2 separate regions of the Homo sapiens genome follow, and region 1 is linked to region 2. Evidence: fine-mapped QTL for protein levels in blood plasma. A gene starts in region 2. The other region holds a variant in brackets. All regions are shown on one strand. Distances are from middle to middle.

Region 1 (9,059 bases), 51 kb before region 2:
ACTACCTTGTCTGTGTACATAGAAATCCTCTCAAATAAAGGCCCCATGGCACAAATCTATACACAAAGTAATGACTCTACACTGGTTAACACCCTAGGGTATCTCTAAGAGTCTGAAAATGGTTAATTTTTAATCACTTAAAGCACAGACACATCATTTAGAAAGCTTTAGGATAGGCTGGGTGTGGTGGCTCATGCCTGTAATACCAGCACTTTGGGAGGCTGAGGCGGGTGGATCATGAGGTCAGGAGTTCGAGACCAGCCTGGCCAATATGGTGAAACCTTGTCTCTACTAAAAATACGAAAATTAGTTGGGTGTGGTGGCGCGTGCCTGTAGTCCTAGCTGCTTGGGAGGCTGAGGCAGGAGAATCGCTTGAACTCGGGAGACTGAGGTTGCAGCGAGCCAAGATCATGTCACTGCACTCCAGCCTGGGTGACAGAGCAAGACTCCGTCTCAAAAAAAAAAAAAAAATTTCCTTTTAGATCCCAGATAAGAGCTAAGTTTGAAACAGGCTTTGAATACTAAGGCCCAGTAAGACTCAGGCCTGCAGCAAAAATCATCTATTCGGGTTTTCCCATTCAAATATACTTCAGATGAAGTCAAGGCAGGTGTCACTGAGAACGAACTAGAAGTGAGAAGCAAAATTAATCAGACCTGAAAACTGTGTAGAGGCAAGAATTGCTAGTGTGGTTACTGGCATGCAGAAATGGCTGCAAGTGAATAATCAGAAGTCTACCAAGTAAATTGTTTTCCCAAATTAACCACACACTCAGGTTTTAAAAGCCACTGACTCTTTTCCAAGGCTTTAGACAACCCTCGGATCCCCAGGCTTGCACCAAGCAGTAAGCTAGCTAAGAAGGCCACGCCAACTCCCAAGAGCAGACTCAATTCAGGTGGGGCTATGGACAATGGACAAGGGACTTCCTTCAAACTAGGCAATCAGAATTTTTAATAAACTTCTTCACAATGTCTGTTCAGCACGATTTTTTTTTGTTTTTGTTTTTGAGATGGAGTCTCACTCTGTCACCAGGCTGGAGTGCAGTGGCACAATCTCGGCTCACTGCAACCTCTGACTCCCGGGTTCAAGCAATTCTGCCTCAGCCTCCCAAGTAGCTGGAATTACAGGCACGCTCCACCATGCCCAGCTAGTTTTTGTATTTTTAGTAGAGACGGGGTTTTGCCATGTTGGCCAGGATGGTCTTATCTCCTGACCTCATGATACGTCCATCTCGGCCTCCCAAAGTGCTGGAATTATAGGCGTGAGCCACCACACTCAGCCTGTTCAGCATGATTTTCTAATTGTTGGGGCCAGTGACACCTCCATTTCCCATTTCCTTTTCCAATTGAGATCTGCTACTACAGTTATTCTATCCCAGCTCTATCACTGTCTATCGGGTAGAAACAGATAACATTTCCAAGTTCAGAGTTTGCCAGACCTTAAGGGGCCACAATCAAGACCTGAAAGACGTGGCATCAGGGAACTCTGGACGTTGAGGTCAATGGATTGCCTGGGGTGGGATTTGGGGCCATCTCCTTTGGTGAAAAGGTATGTGTTGTCTCTGTCTGTGTAAGTCAACATTGGAGGACTGCTTAGCCAACCAACTAGCTGTACCCCTCATCAGCCTGAACATCTATTTCACAGCCCCGCTTGCTTCTGGCATGGTCATGTGACTGAGTTCCAGCCAGTGAATGTGGGCAGAAAAGTCATGCACACCACTTCCAGGCCTGGTACATAACACCCCTTTCCCTGGTGTGCCAGCTGGATGCTGACGTCCAAGGCAATCTTGGAACCCACATGTTGAAAAAGACAGAATCCTGGTAGCCTGGAACCTACATGGGGCAAAGCCCTTCCCCCACATCAGTCTGTTAGACAAAGCACTTGACTTCTGGAAATTCCATGTAGCATCCTCAAATCCCTTGAGTGACATAATGAATACCAGCTCACATCTCATGAGCACTTACTTTGTGCCAGGTATTCTAAGCACTTCATATGATTAACTCATTTAAGCCCCATAATCTCTCTGATGGTCCCCATTTAACAGGTGAGGAAACTCAAGCACAGAAAGGTTAGGTAACTTACCCAGTCATATAAACCAGTAAGTGGCAAAGCTCAAACCCAATCAGCCTAGCTCTAGAATCTAGTCTTGGCCACCATACTCCATTGCTATTATTATAATTGAGACAGGGTCTTGCTGTTGCCCAGGCTGGAGTGCAGTGGCATCTCAGCTCAATGCAACCTCCGCTTCCTGGACTCAAACAATCCTCTCACCTCAGCCTCCTGAGTAGTGGGGACCACAGGTGCATGCCACCACGCCCAGCTTTTTCATTTTTAGTAGAGATGGGAGTTTCGCCGTGGTGGCCAGGCTGGTCTTGAAGTAATCCGCCCATCTCGGCCTCCCAAAGTGCTGGGAATACAGGTGTGAGCCATCGTGCCTGGCCCAAAATGCGCATCTTTTACATCAGCAGGGAGCTGTCCTCCCGCAGTACTAATCTGGAAGTTAATGGCTTTGAGAGGCCCACTTCTTCTGGGGTTCAGGTACACGCCATAAATTACAATGTCTGGGTATAAGCTATTTAAAGGAGTAGGGAGATAGAGACAAGGACACCACCTTGTCTAACTGAAGTAACCACCTCAATTTAAAAGAAATTGATCAAACAGAAGTCTTATGATAAAAACTTTATTGTCTTAAATATCAAATGTTTTACACACCACTTTTTCTTCAGAAAGTTCCTATTTAAAAAAAGAAAAATAAAATAAAGTGTTTTGATTATTTAGGGCTGACTTACATTTCAGTATGTGACAAAAATTCAAACCCAAATGCATCTAGCTCACTCAGTTTCAGACAGGTCCTATGTTCAGCCCCTAAACGAATGGCACAATGCCACCAATTTTGGGATTCCTGAGTTTGGTTCCCTTAAGTTCTCAGAGTTTTCCCAACTCTCAAAACCAAAGCATCATGGGAGTGACAGGGCCACTGGCAAGACTTTTTGCCAGTCAGCCTAGTTCTTCTTTTAAGATGCAGTAGTCTCAAAGCTTAAAGTCAGAAAATCTTGCAATACAAGAGTAACTGCAAGAACATATAAAGAAGGAAAAGAAAGGACGGGGTTTCTAGTTGCTAAGATTTGCCAAACATGGCTACAAAACTGGTAAACAAACCTTTCTTGAGTGCAAAGTCCATTAGCCCAACTTGCCATGAAGAGATTTGAAATAAAAATGAACAAATCAATTTCTGTTGTAGATACAAAGCGAAAAAATAAAATTCAATCAATATATTGAATTTCTCTGAGTTTATCACTAGAACTATTTCAAAAGGATGATCGGGGATAGAATAGAAATCTAGTCATTCAAATGGGAAGGTCTTGGATGGGTGCCATAAACTCAGCTGTGAAGATTCAGGAAAGGAAAAATAAGTCTGGTCAGCATCAGGTAATCTCAGACAGAAGGAATCAGGAAACGAATCAGCCTGCCTCGGGAAGGAAATACAGGTCTACCATTTTTAGGCCATAGACACATTCATTCAGGGTTGTGTGTAAAACCAACTCTTGTAAACAAAATAACTTCCCATCAGAAATGCATGTTCCCAGGAAAAAAAATACTGCAGCATGCCCCCCTCCCCAAATTAGCTAATAAAAACCTTCTTGCAGAACATAAAGAAACCTAGTTCTGTATAAATTATCATAATTTTGTATTTCATGCCCCCACGACCCCAATCTTCCATAGTTGGCTTAACATTTTTAGGTAAAAGAAACATTCTCTAACCCCCATGCCCTTGAACCATTTTCTTGGCCGATTTCATTCCAGAAGATAGTGCCCTAAAACTTGTCAGCTCAGCTGTATCTTTTCACATTCTACAGCCTCCAGAGGGTCTAGATTACCAATCATCAATACATAACTGATAAACCTTTGAGAACATTTTCTAACTGTAAACCTCAGAAGTCACTAGTAGTTA[C/T]GATCCAGAAATTCTACCTGTATGCTTCAGCATTACAACATATATGTGGCATTTAAAATAACAGGTTAAAAAATGTCCCTTTGATGAAGCTGTCCTGTAGACAGGCCTGGTAGAGCCTCAAATACTCCTGTCAATCCTGTCCACCAATCCCAGCCATCGCTGATTACATGTTCTGCTCTAGATTCCCGTTTTCACAAGTTGCACCCAGCTGCTTTAAAATAGCACATCCTGCAGAACCCTCTGCTAAGTCGTGCTAGCCCAGATGGTCAGTATTCCGGAGCAGCCGTGCTCACAAAGGGATGTGAGGAGGATGCTGCCGCACACTCCATGTTTCTACCCTGCATGTGAGGTGGTCTGATGGATTGACTGACTGTCACTGGTGCATTTTTAGGGTCATCTTCCATTTATTTGTTGCACTTCTTTCCTGGCCATCCCCTCTCCTCCAGCATTGTAAATGGATTTCTCAATAACTGATCTCCTCAGGCATTTATACATGTTACATATTTTGTTGGTTTCTCTGATTCCATTTAAAAAAAAATTTTTTTTTTTTTTGAGACGGTGTCTCACTCTTGCCCAGGCTGGAGTACAGTGACGTGATCCCGGCTCACTGCAACCTCCGCCTCCCGGGTTCAAGCGATTCTTCTGCCTCAGTTTCCCGAGTAGCTGGGACTACAGGCATGTGCCACCATGCCCGGCTAATTTTTTATTTTTAGTAGAGGTAAGGTTTCATCATATTGGCCAGGCTGGTCTCGACCTCCTGACCTCATATCCACCCACCTTGGCCTCCCAAAGTGCTGGGATTACAGGTGTGAGCCAACGCACCTGGCCTAAAAAAATAGATTTTTAAAGAGCTGTTTTAGGCCCACAGCATCTGATTCCATTGTAAGCCTGATTTTCCCAGTCTGCTCTGAAGTGGAACCAGGTAACTCTAATATGACTTTTAAAATAAATGCATGCTAACAGGCAAAAATAGATGTTGCTTTTGAAGCTAAAATTTGTTTCACGTCTCCCTTCTAGACTGAAAGCTTCACAAGGGCAGGGTTCCAATCTGTTTTAGTTACCCCTGAATCCCCAGAGTTCACCTGTGCCTGGCACACAGGCACTCAGTATTTGATGAATGAATCAAAGTAGCAAGGAATTCTTGTTCAAAGACTCATGTTGCATAGCCTTCAAGAGTACCAATTTCCTTTCAAATATGTAAGATCTTCTTGAACTTTTCTCTCCCTTAACCAGCACAACATTGATAGTAAAACAAAGAACATAAACATCTAAAAACTGTTTTTGGTGATTCAAAAATCCCTATTATAATCATAGCACTAAAGAAATCTAATGGTCTGATGCAGGATAACTGTGAATCAACTCAGTCAAGGTGAGCCTGAGGACCACTCTGTGTGCCCTCCATCTCCAGGAGAGCTATTTTCAAACTTTCCCCTAATACTCCTCTCATTCCCCACCAAAATTTGATGCCTCTGCTATTCAGAGAAACTAAGGCACAAAAGAAAATCAAGCACATCGAAGGTTCACTCCTAAGTTCATTCAGTGAACTCCTAGTAACACCTACTGAGGAATCACTAAGGTATAAAACTTGAACCATGATTTTACATTTCCAGTTCTCAAGGACAGGCTTTGAATTTAATTTGTTGTTAAGAGTAATTAGCAATTCTAGGGAAAAAAAAGCTATTTTTATTTTCTCTACCTCCTAACACAAAAGGTAACATTCATCTTCTAGGAAGGGAAACTCTTGATAACTCTGTGTCTTTCTAGGTCAGCCACAGACTACACTAAGTCACCAACTCCAAAGGGGAAATTTGGCTTTTTGGTGAGTACTTGTGCTAGAGAACAGTAGAATGCATAATCTGGTCAGCTTCTCTTGGGACACACTGCCAGTGATAACAGGTTTGAAATATGCAGCAGTTCAATCATCCTGCTCACCCTCACCACAGGTGGCAAACAGGTAGGAAAAGGCCATTGCAACGCCCTGCAGCTTTTCTGGCCGATGATTTGCAAGGCTGTTTGCTATATATATATATATTTATATATGTGGCGGGATAAAAGCCACCATAAGTGAAGAGTACGTCTGTAGATATAAAAATTGCTTGCTTTTAAATCCATATAAAATTAACTATACTTGTCAATCACCATATGTATATGCTAGCTTACACACATATATATAGACATGAGCTTAAAAGTTAACCTAAATTTTTATGGCTTTCACCGGAGATAGAAAGCTGTAGTAAGACAACCAGCAGATTCCACATTAACTGGTTATCATAAAATCAGTGACAAAAAGCCTCATGTTCCATTTCTATGTACCCTCTTGCTAGAGACATGCTTTGGGAAAAAACACATAGGGTTGTGTCTCCCTTTAGTACATATGAAGACAGGGAGCTCTAGAAGATGTGGGCTGCAAGGCAGAAGAGTTTTAACACATGCACTCGCCATCTCTCCAGCTTCCTTTGCCAAGCAACTGGTTACCTTTTTTTTTTTTTTTTTTGAGACAGAGTTTTGCTCTTGTTGCCCAGGCTGGAGTGCAATGGCGTGATCTCTGCTCACCACAACCTCCGCCTCCCAGGTTTAAGTGATTCTCCTGCCTCAGCCTCCCGAGTAGCTGGAATTACAGGCATGGGCCACCACACCCGGCTAATTTTTGTATTTTTAGTAGAGATGGAGTTTCACCATGTTGGCCAGGCCTGTCTCAAACTCCTGCCCTCAGGTGATCCACCCGCCTTGGCCTCCCAAAGTGCTGGGATTACAGGTGTGAGCCACCGAGCCTAGCTGCAACTGGTTATCTTTATGTGTTAATAGCTGAAGCCCAAACTGTGGGATGAAGGCTATTGGCTGTCTGGAGCCCTGAACAGGTATGAGTGGAAATAATTCTTAACAGCATCAATGAGCAAAATCTATAACCTATGTAAAGCTGCTGTCTGGTTACCAAGCACATCTTTCCGCTCAAGAACCAACTTCAGGGAAATGGCACAAATTACACAGGAAAATCTTCTCTCTCTGGTGAAGAAACAGAGACCGCCCTTGTAGTTAAGTGCTGACCGCAGAACTGCCCACTACTGGTTATGGTAAAGGAGCTGTCCGGTAAAGGTGCCCATTACTGGTTATTACTGTTGGCAACCAGAATTCACAGGGATTTGATGGTATTCTTAGAAGTTAACCCATAATTTCTGCATTTCTGGAGCTCTTAATTGAATAAAAGCTGACGATGAAGGTTCACTATTGTAATGCTCCTTAATATACCCTTTGCATTCTAGAGCTGCTAAATTTAAGTCATCCAAAATATTAACAGTGTCAATAGCTTTTTTTTTTTTTTTTTGGGTGAGACAGAGTCTCACTCTGCCGCCCACACTGGAGTGCAGTGGCGTGATCTAGGCTCACTGCAACCCCCATCTCCCAGGTTCAAGCAATTCTCCTGCCTCAGTCTCCCAAGTAGCTGGGATTACAGGCGTGTGCCACCATGCCCAGCTAATTTTTTGTATTTTTAGTAGAGATGAGGTTTCACCGTGTTGGACAAACAGCTTTATTTTTATAAAAATGATGGGCAAGAAGATTTTAAAAATCAAAAGCAATTATACTTTGGCCTTTATGTAGTCCCAGCTACTCAGAAGGATGATTAAGCCCCAGAGTTTGAGTCCAGCCTGGGCAACACTGCAAGACCCCATCTCAAAAATAAAATGATGGAAGGGACAAGGATATTTGGCAAGTGGGTTAAGCTCATTCAGAGTATTCCTAACAGGAATTCATGTACAACTATAGATCTATTCCTAAAAATAAATATACATATACATACACAAAAAGCTATCCTAATGAAATCTTTTCCCGACTGATATTATATATTCCACTTGGAACTGTTTCCCAAATATCCACACTGAATTGTGTGCCAAGGTTCGTTCTGCTTACATGGAAGGCCCTTTAGGAGGGAGTCTATTGTCATCAGTAAGTTCCCCCACCCTTCCCACCCCGTGGTTCCAAAGATTTATAAGCTTAGAATACATTCCCAAACCACCACCCATAAAGCAAATACAGGGTCCCATTGCATTGCTACTAGATTTTGCATCAATCATAGCACCAACTATTTAATTACAATCACAGCTTTAAGTCAGCTGACAGAAATCCTATGAGCAGTTTCCTAGTGCATCGTACATCTTTGGTGTAGGGCAGGTGAAAGGGTCTACAATGTGCAGCTGTCTAAAAGAACATCTTAAAGACAACCTGGCTGACCTGTTGTTCTTCACGCCCTCTGAAAAGCAGTAAACTACAATTCCTTCTGTCAACCATTTCCTAACTACATAAAGGATCATGATGAATCTACGTGACACGCCATCCCATCACTAAAGTCTTATAACATACATACAAACATCATAGCAAAAGGAAAGAAAGAAGTTGGATGGGGTAGAAAAAAATGTCTCTAAGTGCCCCTAAATTAAAATTTCAAAAACTCCTGAGATATGAGCCTCCATTTTGATTGTGCTCAATGACTTAAAATTTGATGAAACAAACAAGCTTACAAAGAGTCAGACTTCAGACAAAATCATTTAACACTAAGTTGAGAAATCACTCTTTCGAAGCTTCTGTTTCAAACATGTTACAAACTATAATCTAGAATCAGAAATTATGAATCTCAAAATTCTTTTCAATAAAACCAAGACTTCAGATTCCTGCTAGGTACCCAAAAGAGCAGTTTGCCAGGAAAGAATTATCTAAAACCTATCCAGTAGGATTATTGCACAGTGGGGCCCACAGGACAATGATTTCCAAGGGCTAGTCCTTATATAAAAAAAGGCCACAATAAATACATCTATATATTATGCCCCACTCTAACTTGACATGGTAAACACAAATAAGATGAATTTTGCTTAAAAAAGAAACTCCTGAGGAAAGAAAAGGATGGAAAACTCTACCAAGGCCACTTAAGTCAGAAACTGTAATTACTATTTCCACTGCCACAAAGGACACTCTCCAAATAGACTGACCGTTCCAAGCACCAAGATTAACCAGTGACAAGGTTATCACACTTAGTATTTCACTCAGATCACAGCTCACACTGAGCGTTTGAAGAACTTCCTGGCAGAAGAGTCTAGAAAGGAAATAAGCTGCTGGCAA
Region 2 (9,059 bases):
CAAGTCTGCATCAAAGCATCAAACAGAGCCATGACTGGCTTCCAAGCCCACACTTCTATTAAGAGACAGAACATGCCCAGCTTTAATCACATGTACAAGCAGAGATGGCTTGTTCTAAATTTGTTATCACTGCATTGTAACTACTATCATCAGACTAGAGCTGTTAAAAATTAACACCTTTTCCAACTATATGCTTATGTGCAATTGACACTCAGGTGAAAGACTGAATTCTAAACCATTGATCACCAATGTAGGGCAGCCATGCAAGACAATTCTTTAACGGTGGAGGAAGAAACTGAAAATATTAGAATTTTCATTTCCATTTATTTTAGTTCGTCCTTCCTTAAGCTCCATTTTGTGTGTGTACAATGTTACTTTACAGATAACATATTATATATGCATATAATGCACGTTATGTGTATTATATGCACATGTGGCCATATATAATGTATACAACGTATCAGTTCATGTATATAATGTATTATATACATAACAGAAGCATAATCTGAAACATTTTACTGATAGGGATACATGAATGAAAGTTTGGACACCAGTGGTGTGGACACATAGTGGCAGGAAAAAATAGCCAGAACATAAAAATATATATATTTCCTTGAAGAAATGGAATCAGAAATGAGAGGTGAAGGAATGGGAATGGAGAATGTAAACAAGAGGAGGAGTTAAACAGTCTAGGAAAGGAAGGGAAGATGAGTAATATGAGAGAACCCTGGGAGGTAATGGGGGGGGACACTCAAGTAAGTAAACATGATATATTTATGGGTAAAAACTATAGTGATGTTTACTATTATGATTTGATGAAAGGAAATGACTCAAGTGTCTAGGGTGGATCCTGTTCCTGCCTGATGGGCAAGCAAGCAAGTGAAAGACAACCGACCACCAGACACCTTAAAATAGATACTGTGTTGTCAGGTTACAATGGAGCCAACAGAACAGACTGGAAAAACAGGAGCTGTTTATGGCTATCTAATACAGGCTTAACACCAGTTGGAGCCCAAGTTTCTATATGCTAATTTGGCTTGGGAAGGAAGTAAATGCCGAAACATTGACATAATGAACAAGAAATAATTTGGAGTTAGCCTATGTTCAATTACTAAGGTATTCCTAACTTTACCAACTGGCAGAGGGCAATGTCTGGCTGACCACACAATAAATCGTCTTTTATGATGGCTGTAACAAGAAATTTAAGTCAATTAAAGGGGGTGTCAGGTATCCCTTTGACTTAAATTTCTTGTTTCAGCCATCACAAAAAGTGCAGGAATGGAAACAACCTCAACCTCTGTCTTTTCCCAAGCCCTAACAACAAAATCAATTTACATTTTAATTTCTTATTTTCCCTACCAGCCGGTGATCATAACCAGGGTAATATAACAGCTAGAGGAAAAAACAATTGAAAAAGCCACTATCGGGCCGGGTGCGGTGGCTCACAGCACTTTGGAAGGCCGAGGCGGGCAGACCACGAGGTCAGGAGATCGAGACCATCCTGGCTAACATGGTGAAACCCCTTCTCTACTAAAAATACAAAAAATGAGTCGGGCGCGGTGGTGGGCGCCTGTAGTCCCAGCTACTCGGGAGGCTGAGGCAGGAGAATGGCACGAACCCGGGAGGTGGAGCTTGCAGTAAGCCGAGATCGCGCCACTGCACTCCAGCCTAGGCGACAGAGACTCCGTCTCGAAAAAAAAAAAAGAAAAGAAAAGAAAAGAAAAAGCCACTATCAAAAATTGAAGAGTTGTCCGGGAACGGTGGCTCACACCTGTAATCGCAGCATTTTGGGAGGCCGAGGCGGGCAGATCACTAGAGGTCAGGAGTTTGAAATCAGCCTGGTCAACATGGTGAAACCCCGTCTCTACTAAAAAAAAATTACAAAAATTAGCCAGGCGTGGTGGCGCGCGCCCGTAGTCCCAGTTACTCAGGAGGCTGAGGCAGGAGAATCGCTTGAACCCGGGAGACTGGGGTTGCAGTGAGTCGAGAACGCACCACTGCACTCCAGCATGGGCGACAGAGCAAGACTCCGTCTCAAAAACAAAAACAAAAAAAGAAAAAAAATTGAAGAGTTTATTTTCTCTATTTAAACAGTCCTTTCCTAGTTCTCCACATGAGGCATTCACTGACAGAACTGGTTCCTGAGCTTTTGTGGATTAACTTTTTAAATTCTTTCTGAACAGCTTTATGCCAAGGTTCTAAAGTTCACATTGTGTAAAGGAATCATACTTCTGAACAAAGTATTGACACGTGTTTACCATAAGACAGCAGAACAAGCTGCAGTTGGGCAATCGTTTTGTAAACTATTTCATAACTGCAGTAGAAAATCAAGATTTACTTGATGGAGACTTGGGAGACCTCTATAATTTTCTTAATGTTTAGACTATTTCCTCCAGGCTAAATTTATTAAGTCATGATCTAAGTGTTTTAGTGTAAAGTTTACAGCGTTAGTGTCACCGATTCTGTTTGATAAAGACTAGGGGCAGCCCCAAAGCATTTTGAGAATTACTTTGCTTAGTTAAAATATGAGAGGCTGAACTTCTTTCCAGCAAGCTGAGTAGGGAAATGAAACCACCAAACAGCACTGATACTAGGCCGTTTCCAAGCAAATATCCTTTTAAAGCATTGAGCTTTGAACTGACCCAAACTCTGAACTGTGACCTGAAAGAAAAAGGGCCTTCTGGCTTACTACCAGGGTAGAACCGAAACAAACAAACAGCTTGAGTTGAACCAATAGGTACTGTTTTTCAAAAGAATTTAACCAGAAACGCATGTGGTGGGTAAAGAGCATTTCCAAAGACCCCAAAATGAGGTAGTGCAAGTCTTAAACTTTTTCTTTCACCGGAAGTGCAAATCTGTGCATTTAAAGGTAAACTGCGTATATTTAAGCAGAAACCCTCTCCAGAAAAAAAAAAAAAAAAAAGCAGAGGAACATCTATCTACCACAGTGATCCAAACTGGTATTTCTGGTTTGCAGGATGTATGAATCCTAGCAAACCCAGGGCTGCTTCTGAGGTCCACAACGATATCCTACACTCGGGATTAGAAACAGGGAAGGGCCAAAGAGCCAAAGGTGGGGAGGGTTAGCGCTGCTCAACAGTCCACGCGCCCCTCACGCTGCAGTGGGTGCGTCTGCGGTCAGGTTCTCCGCTCCCTCTCCTCGTACCCCACCCCATGCTCGGAGTGTGTGAGGGCAGCTACTGATGCCAGCTCCCCAGCTCCTTTCCGGATGCGGGGGTGACCTGAGAATGGCTATCCTTGCTCCCCCCAGCCCCCAATTCTTCACCAGTAGCAAAGGGAGGGAGTGAGGCCCCGAGGCGGGGAGGGCTTAGCTCCGGGGCAGGCCCGGCTCGCTGCCCGGCGTACCTGGCTCTCGGCTGCGGGGATGCCAGACTCGAGCTCGCACAGCGCGCGGAAGTTGTGCAGCTCGAAGTCGGCGTCGACCTGGAGGGAAAAGGTCACCTCGGAGAGGTCCCTCCGCACACAGTACACGGTGAGCAGCATGGCCCGGGCCCGACCCGGCTCGGCTCGGCTCGGCCCGGCCTGGGCGCGGGGCGCAGGGGAAGAGGCGGCGGCGTGGCCTGGCTGGTGCTGCGGGAGGACGGCGCCGGCTGCTCGTTCGCTCGCTCGCTCCCTCCCTCACACACGCTCAGTGAGTCACTCCCTCCCGCCCTCACTAGCAAGCACGGCCGCCGCCACACGCCTGCGAGTCCGTCTGCCTGCCGGCCTGCCTCCCACGGCTGCCGCCAAGCGCGCCGGCCGCCCGGCGCCCCGCCCCGCCGCAACGCGGCTGCCGTAAAGCCCGCCTCGCCTTCCCCGCCTTCGCAACGCAGCGGGGGGCGGGGCCGGGAAGAGGAGGAGGAAGCCAGGAGAGGATAGGAGGGGGAGGAGTGGGAAGGGGGCGTGGAAGAGGAGAGGGAGGAAGGGCAAGAAAAGGGGAGGGAAGGAAAGGAACGCGGAGAAGGAAATCTCTGCTGACTGGTTGACTTAATGACAGAAGTCTGTGGAGGAGTCCCCGGTCTTATTTATTCACCGAACAGGCATTGATTAAGCGCCTACCATGTGTCGGGCGCTGGCGATGCAGAAATGAATAAAAGGATAAATCCTTCTCCGTAACTCTCAATCTAGTACAGGAGTTAGTAATAAAACATATTTTTCGAGGTAGAAATTGAGGCTCCGACAGAGTAATTCACTTCCTGTCTTAGTGATTTAGGATTGAAACCAAAATCATTACCCTCCCTAGTCTACAGAAGCCAGTTGGCTGTGGCCCACGCCTACCTCCCCAGCCCCTTCTTCCGAGCTCTTCCCACATTCTCTGCCCTCCCAGCCACATAGGTCAGTTCCTCCAAGGCTCCATTCCCCTGTCTTGTAAATAATTTTCTCTCTACTTGGACTGTGTCTGTTTCCTAGCCCTAGCAACTCCTACCACCTAGCGCAGTGCCTTTTTGGGCACAGCTTAGAATCTACTCAATAAATATTTGCTACTTTAATGGCCTGTTTTTAAGGCACACAGCTGATGAGTGGTAGAGGCCCAGAACTAAGGTGCGGATGAGTAAGAAAACCAAAACTGAAAGATGAACTTGTAATGGATGCCAGATTAGCATCTTTCCATTTACTCCCACTCCCCCTCCATGGTAGGGAGCCCTTTTCCATTTTAACAGGAGAGAAGGAGCAAATAAGATGGCTGTGGGTGCAGGTAAGTAGGTAGTAAGTAGGCTGTTGGTGGCAGGAAAGGGAGAATTAGCAGCTGAAGGCTTTTACAAAGAGAAATTAGAGGAGCTGGGCGCGGTGGCTCACGCCTGTAATCCCAGCACTTTGGGAGGCCAAGGCGGGCGGATCACAAGGTCAGGAGTTCGAGACCAGCTTGGCCAATATGGTGAAACCCCGTCTCTACTAAAAATACAAAAATTAGCCGGGCATGGTGGCGGACACCTATAGTCCCAGCTACTCGGGAGGCTGAGGCAGGAGGGTCACTTGAACGCGGGAGGCGGAGGTTGTAGTGAGCCGAGATCAGGTCACTGCACTCTAGCCTGGGAGACAGAGCGAGACTCTGTCTCAAAAAAAAAAAAAAAAAAGAGAAAGTAGAGGCACAGGGGAGTGAGAATGCTTATATCCCCTAGGAGCAACAGAAAGCTTGACTATCAGTGGCTTAAACAAACAAGGGTTTGTTTTCTCACAGGAGAGAAGGCCTGGAGGTAGCAACAGCACTGGTTGAGTGGCTCACTGAAATCAGGGCCAATACTTTTGTAATTGTCTTGACCTTTTCCTGAGGGTTGCAATATATGGCTGGCTGCCTCCACTGCACGCATCATTTTCCTATTCAAGGAAAAAGCTTGCCCAGAAGTCCCTGTGCACATTTTTGCTTACATCTCACTGGACAGAATTGTGTCACATAGATGCAAGAGAGGCTAGGAACGCAAGTATTTAGCTTTGCCTAAAGGACATAAATAGGGAAAAGGGGGGCTGGGAATGGGTATTAGGAAAGATGTACACAGTGCCTTCTACAGTGAATGTTTGAAATAACCATTGCAAATTGAAGCAAGTTTAGCTGAGAAATGTTCTAGGATTGCCCAGTGGTGGTATCAAGGAATCAGTTGAGGCTTGAATCATTGATTAATTGTTATATTTGGTCTAGTGGTGCTCAGGTTCCCAGGTCTGGCAGATTTTGTTCTCCAAAGATGACCATGACAGTGCCTCCCATCGTCTATGCTCTTCCTACAACATGATTGGATAACCCTCCCATTAAGAAGTGGGGTGAATGTCCCTCCCTTTGAATCATGGCTCGGCAGACTAACTCTGGCATAAGTGACATTATGTGATTTCCTTTTTTTTTTTTTTTTTTATCAAGACAGGGTCTGGCTCTGTCACCCAGGCTGGAGTGCAGTGGCACGATCATGGCTCACTGCAGCCTCAACCTCCAGGGCTCAAGTGATCCCTCCAGCTCAACCTCCCCAGCAGCTGGAACTACAGGTGTGCACCACCACACGCAGCTAATTTCTTTTTAGTAGAGATGAGATCTTGCTATGTTGCCCAGGCTTGATTTCCTTTTTATTATGATTTTACATTATTTTTAGTTAAAAAAAATAGGGATGAGTCCTTGCTATGTTGACCAGGCTAATCTCCAAATCCTGGCCTCAAGTGATCCTCCCACCTTGGCCTCACGAAGTACTGGGATTACAGATGTGAGCCATCGCACCCAGCCACTTTGTGTGATTTTTAAGGCTAGGTCTCGCCTGTGTCCACCTGGAGCCAGCAGTTCTCACCCAGCATCCAGCAATATATGCCAGACACCAATGGAGGGGACAAAGCAATGGTGGACAGGCTCAGGCTGGGGCTGCTGCTTCTGGCACTGCTCCTACTTATGCAGATTTATTCAAATCAAACTATTGTAACGTTTTCAAGTAACTCCTCCCAGGGTACCTTGTCTGCCCCAAACCCAGCTAATGCCACCACCAAGGCAGTTGGCTGTGCCCTGCAGTCAACTGCCAGTCTCCTCATGGTCTTGCTTTCTCTTCTATATTTCTACTGTTAAGAAACATCTATACTTCCGTGTCTTCTAAACCCATTCCAAATGGCATCTAGGAGTCCAATGTGGCAAGAAAAAAAGCGGGTCTTCATCAAATCTATTAATTTCACACCTTCTTTTACTGATACAGAAAAGGTTGAGAACCTGGCCAGGTGTGGTGGCTCATGCCTGTAATCCCAACACATTGAGAGGTCGAGGCAGGTGGATCACCTGAGGTCAGGAGTTTGAGACCAGCCTGGCCAACATGGTGAAACCCCGTCTCTACTAAAAGTACAGAAAAATTACCCAGATATGGTGGTGGATGCCTGTAATCCCAGCTACTTGGGAGGCTGAGGCAGGAGAATTGGTTGAACCTGGGAGGCAGAGGTTGCAGTGAGCCGAGATTGCGCCATTGCACTCCAGCCTGGGCAACAAGAGCAAAACTCTGTCTCAAAAAAAAAAAAAAAAAAAAAAAAGGCCAGGCGCGGTAGCTCACATCTGTAATCCCAGCACTTTGGGAGGCCGAGGCAGGTGGCAGGTGGATCACAAGGTCAGGAGTTCAAGACCAGCCTGACCAACATGGTGAAACCCCGTCTCTACTAAAAATATAAAAATTAGCCAGACGTGGTGGTGTGTGCCTGTAATCCCAGCTACTCAGGAGGCTGAGGCAGGAGAATGGCTTGAACATGGGAGGCAGAGGGTGCAGTGAGCCGAGATCGCGCCATTGCACTCCAGCCTGGGCGACAGAGTGAGACTCCATCTCAAAAAAAAAAAAAAAGGAAAGAAAGAAAGAAAAGGTTGAGAACCCCAAATTTAATTGCTTTGAAGAACACGTGAAGGGTTTGACTAGATGATGGATGCCAATATTAAATCTGCTTAAATGTCATGTACAAGATGAAGAGAGGCAACATCCAAAATTGAAGACATTATTTCTTGAATGTGGCTTAAGAAATGTGGACAGTTAAAACTACCTTGAAAATAAGAATAGTAGATCCTGAGACAAAACTTGGGTAATAAAAAAAAAATAATAATAAATAATAGATTTTATCTTGTTTAGAAATAAAGATGTAATATGGAGTGGAGATTCAGTTTTCATTTGGTTCATTAAGTCTATACGGCAGTAAAACCAGTAAAATAAAAGATTTCCATTGGCAGGGGTGGGGGTGGCTCATACCTGTAATCCTAGCACTTTGGGAGGCCACAGCAGGAGGATCGATTGAGCCCAGGAGTTTGAAATCACCCTGGGCAACAGGGTGAGACCCCATCTCTACAAAAAAAAATTTATTTTAATTTAATTAATTTATTTATTTATTGAGATGGAGTCTTGTTCTGTTGCCCAGGCTGGAGTGCAGTGGTGCGAGCTCAGCTCACTGCAACCTCCACTTCCCTGGCTCGTGATTCTCCTGCCTGAGCCTCCCAAGTTGCTGGGATTACAGGCCTGCACCACCATGCCCCGCTAATTTTTATTTTTTGTTTTTCCTTTCTGAGACACAGTCTCGCTCTGCCATCCAGGCTGGAGTGCAGTGGTGCGATCTCAGCTCACTGCAACCTCTGCCTCGCAGGTTCAAGTGATTCTTGTGCCTCAGCCTCCTGAGTAGCTGGGATTACAGGCACCCACCACCATACCTGGCTAATTTTTGTATTTTTAGTGGAGACAGGGTTTCACCATGTAGGCCAGGCGGGTCGCAAACTCCTGACCTCAGGTGATCTACCCACTGGGCCCCCCAAAGTGCTGGGATTACGGGCATGAGCCACTGCACCTGGCCATAATCTCCTTTTTTTTTTTTGAGGCAGCGTTTCACTCTTGTCCCCCAGGCTGGAGTGCCATGGCACGATCCCAGCTCACTGCAATCTCCACCTCCCGGGTTCAAGCCATTCTCCTTCTTTAGCCTCCTGAGTAGCTGGGACTACAGGAGCATGCCACCATGCCCAGCTAATATTTGTATTTTTAGTAGAGATGGGGTTTCACCATGTTGGCCAGGCTGGTCTCAAACTCCTGACCTCAGGCGATCCAGCTCTCTCGTCCTCCCAAAGTGCTGGGATTACAGGTGTGAGCCACCGTGTCTGGCCCACAAATTTAAAAAAAGAGGTGGGCATGGTGTCACACACTTGTGGTCACAGCTACCCAAGAGACTGAGGTAGGATGATCACTTCAGCCCTGGAGGTCAAGGCTGCAGTAAGCCATTATCATGGCACTCCAGCCTGGGTGACAGAGCAAGATCCTGTCTTAAAGTTTAAAAAAGCTTCCATCGGCTGGGTGCAGTGGCTCACACCTGTAATCCCAGCACTTTGGGAGACCAAGGCGGGTGGATCACAAGGTCAGGAGTTCAAGACCAGCCTGGCCAAGATGGTGAAACCCCATCTCTACTAAAAATACAAAAAATTAGCTGGGCACGGTGGCAAGTGTCTGTAATTACAGCTACTCGGGAGGCTGAGGCAGGAGAATCGTGTGAACTCGGAGGGTGGAGGCTGCAGTGAGCTGAGACCGCACCACTGCACTCCAGCCTGGAAGACAGAGTGAGACTCCGTCTCAAAAAAAAAAAAAAAAGCTTCC

Alleles and levels. Alleles are on the strand shown, and positions count from the first base shown. The strength of an association depends on the size of the effect and on how common the allele is.
For the plasma level of the protein whose gene starts at base 3,717 in region 2, C is the high allele of the variant in region 1 and T is the other (weak association).

What was found. A credible set is the group of variants that fine-mapping cannot tell apart. PIP is the posterior inclusion probability: the model's chance that the variant is causal. Protein levels are from antibody-based Olink assays in UK Biobank. Linkage for the fine-mapping came from a reference panel and not from the study's own genotypes, which makes the PIPs less certain.
Region 1: its variant is the best candidate, but not a certain one, in a credible set for the plasma level of the DDI2 protein (UK Biobank, PIP 0.74).

Annotation. Positions count from the first base shown.
Region 1 is chr1:15,662,648-15,671,706 of GRCh38, reverse strand. It overlaps DDI2 (DDI proteasomal shuttling factor 2), which reads right to left. Exons shown (of 10, transcript NM_032341.5): 10 at 2,663-9,059. Among named protein-coding and RNA genes, the nearest start is that of RSC1A1, 7.5 kb to the right of the region's middle. RefSeq lists a silencer at 3,286-3,486. The variant C/T (reference allele first, on the strand shown) is at 3,951.
Region 2 is chr1:15,612,116-15,621,174 of GRCh38, reverse strand. It overlaps DDI2 (DDI proteasomal shuttling factor 2), which reads right to left and starts at 3,717. Exons shown (of 10, transcript NM_032341.5): 1 at 3,367-3,717. The coding sequence starts at 3,504. It also overlaps the pseudogene CD24P1. RefSeq lists a silencer at 3,394-3,963.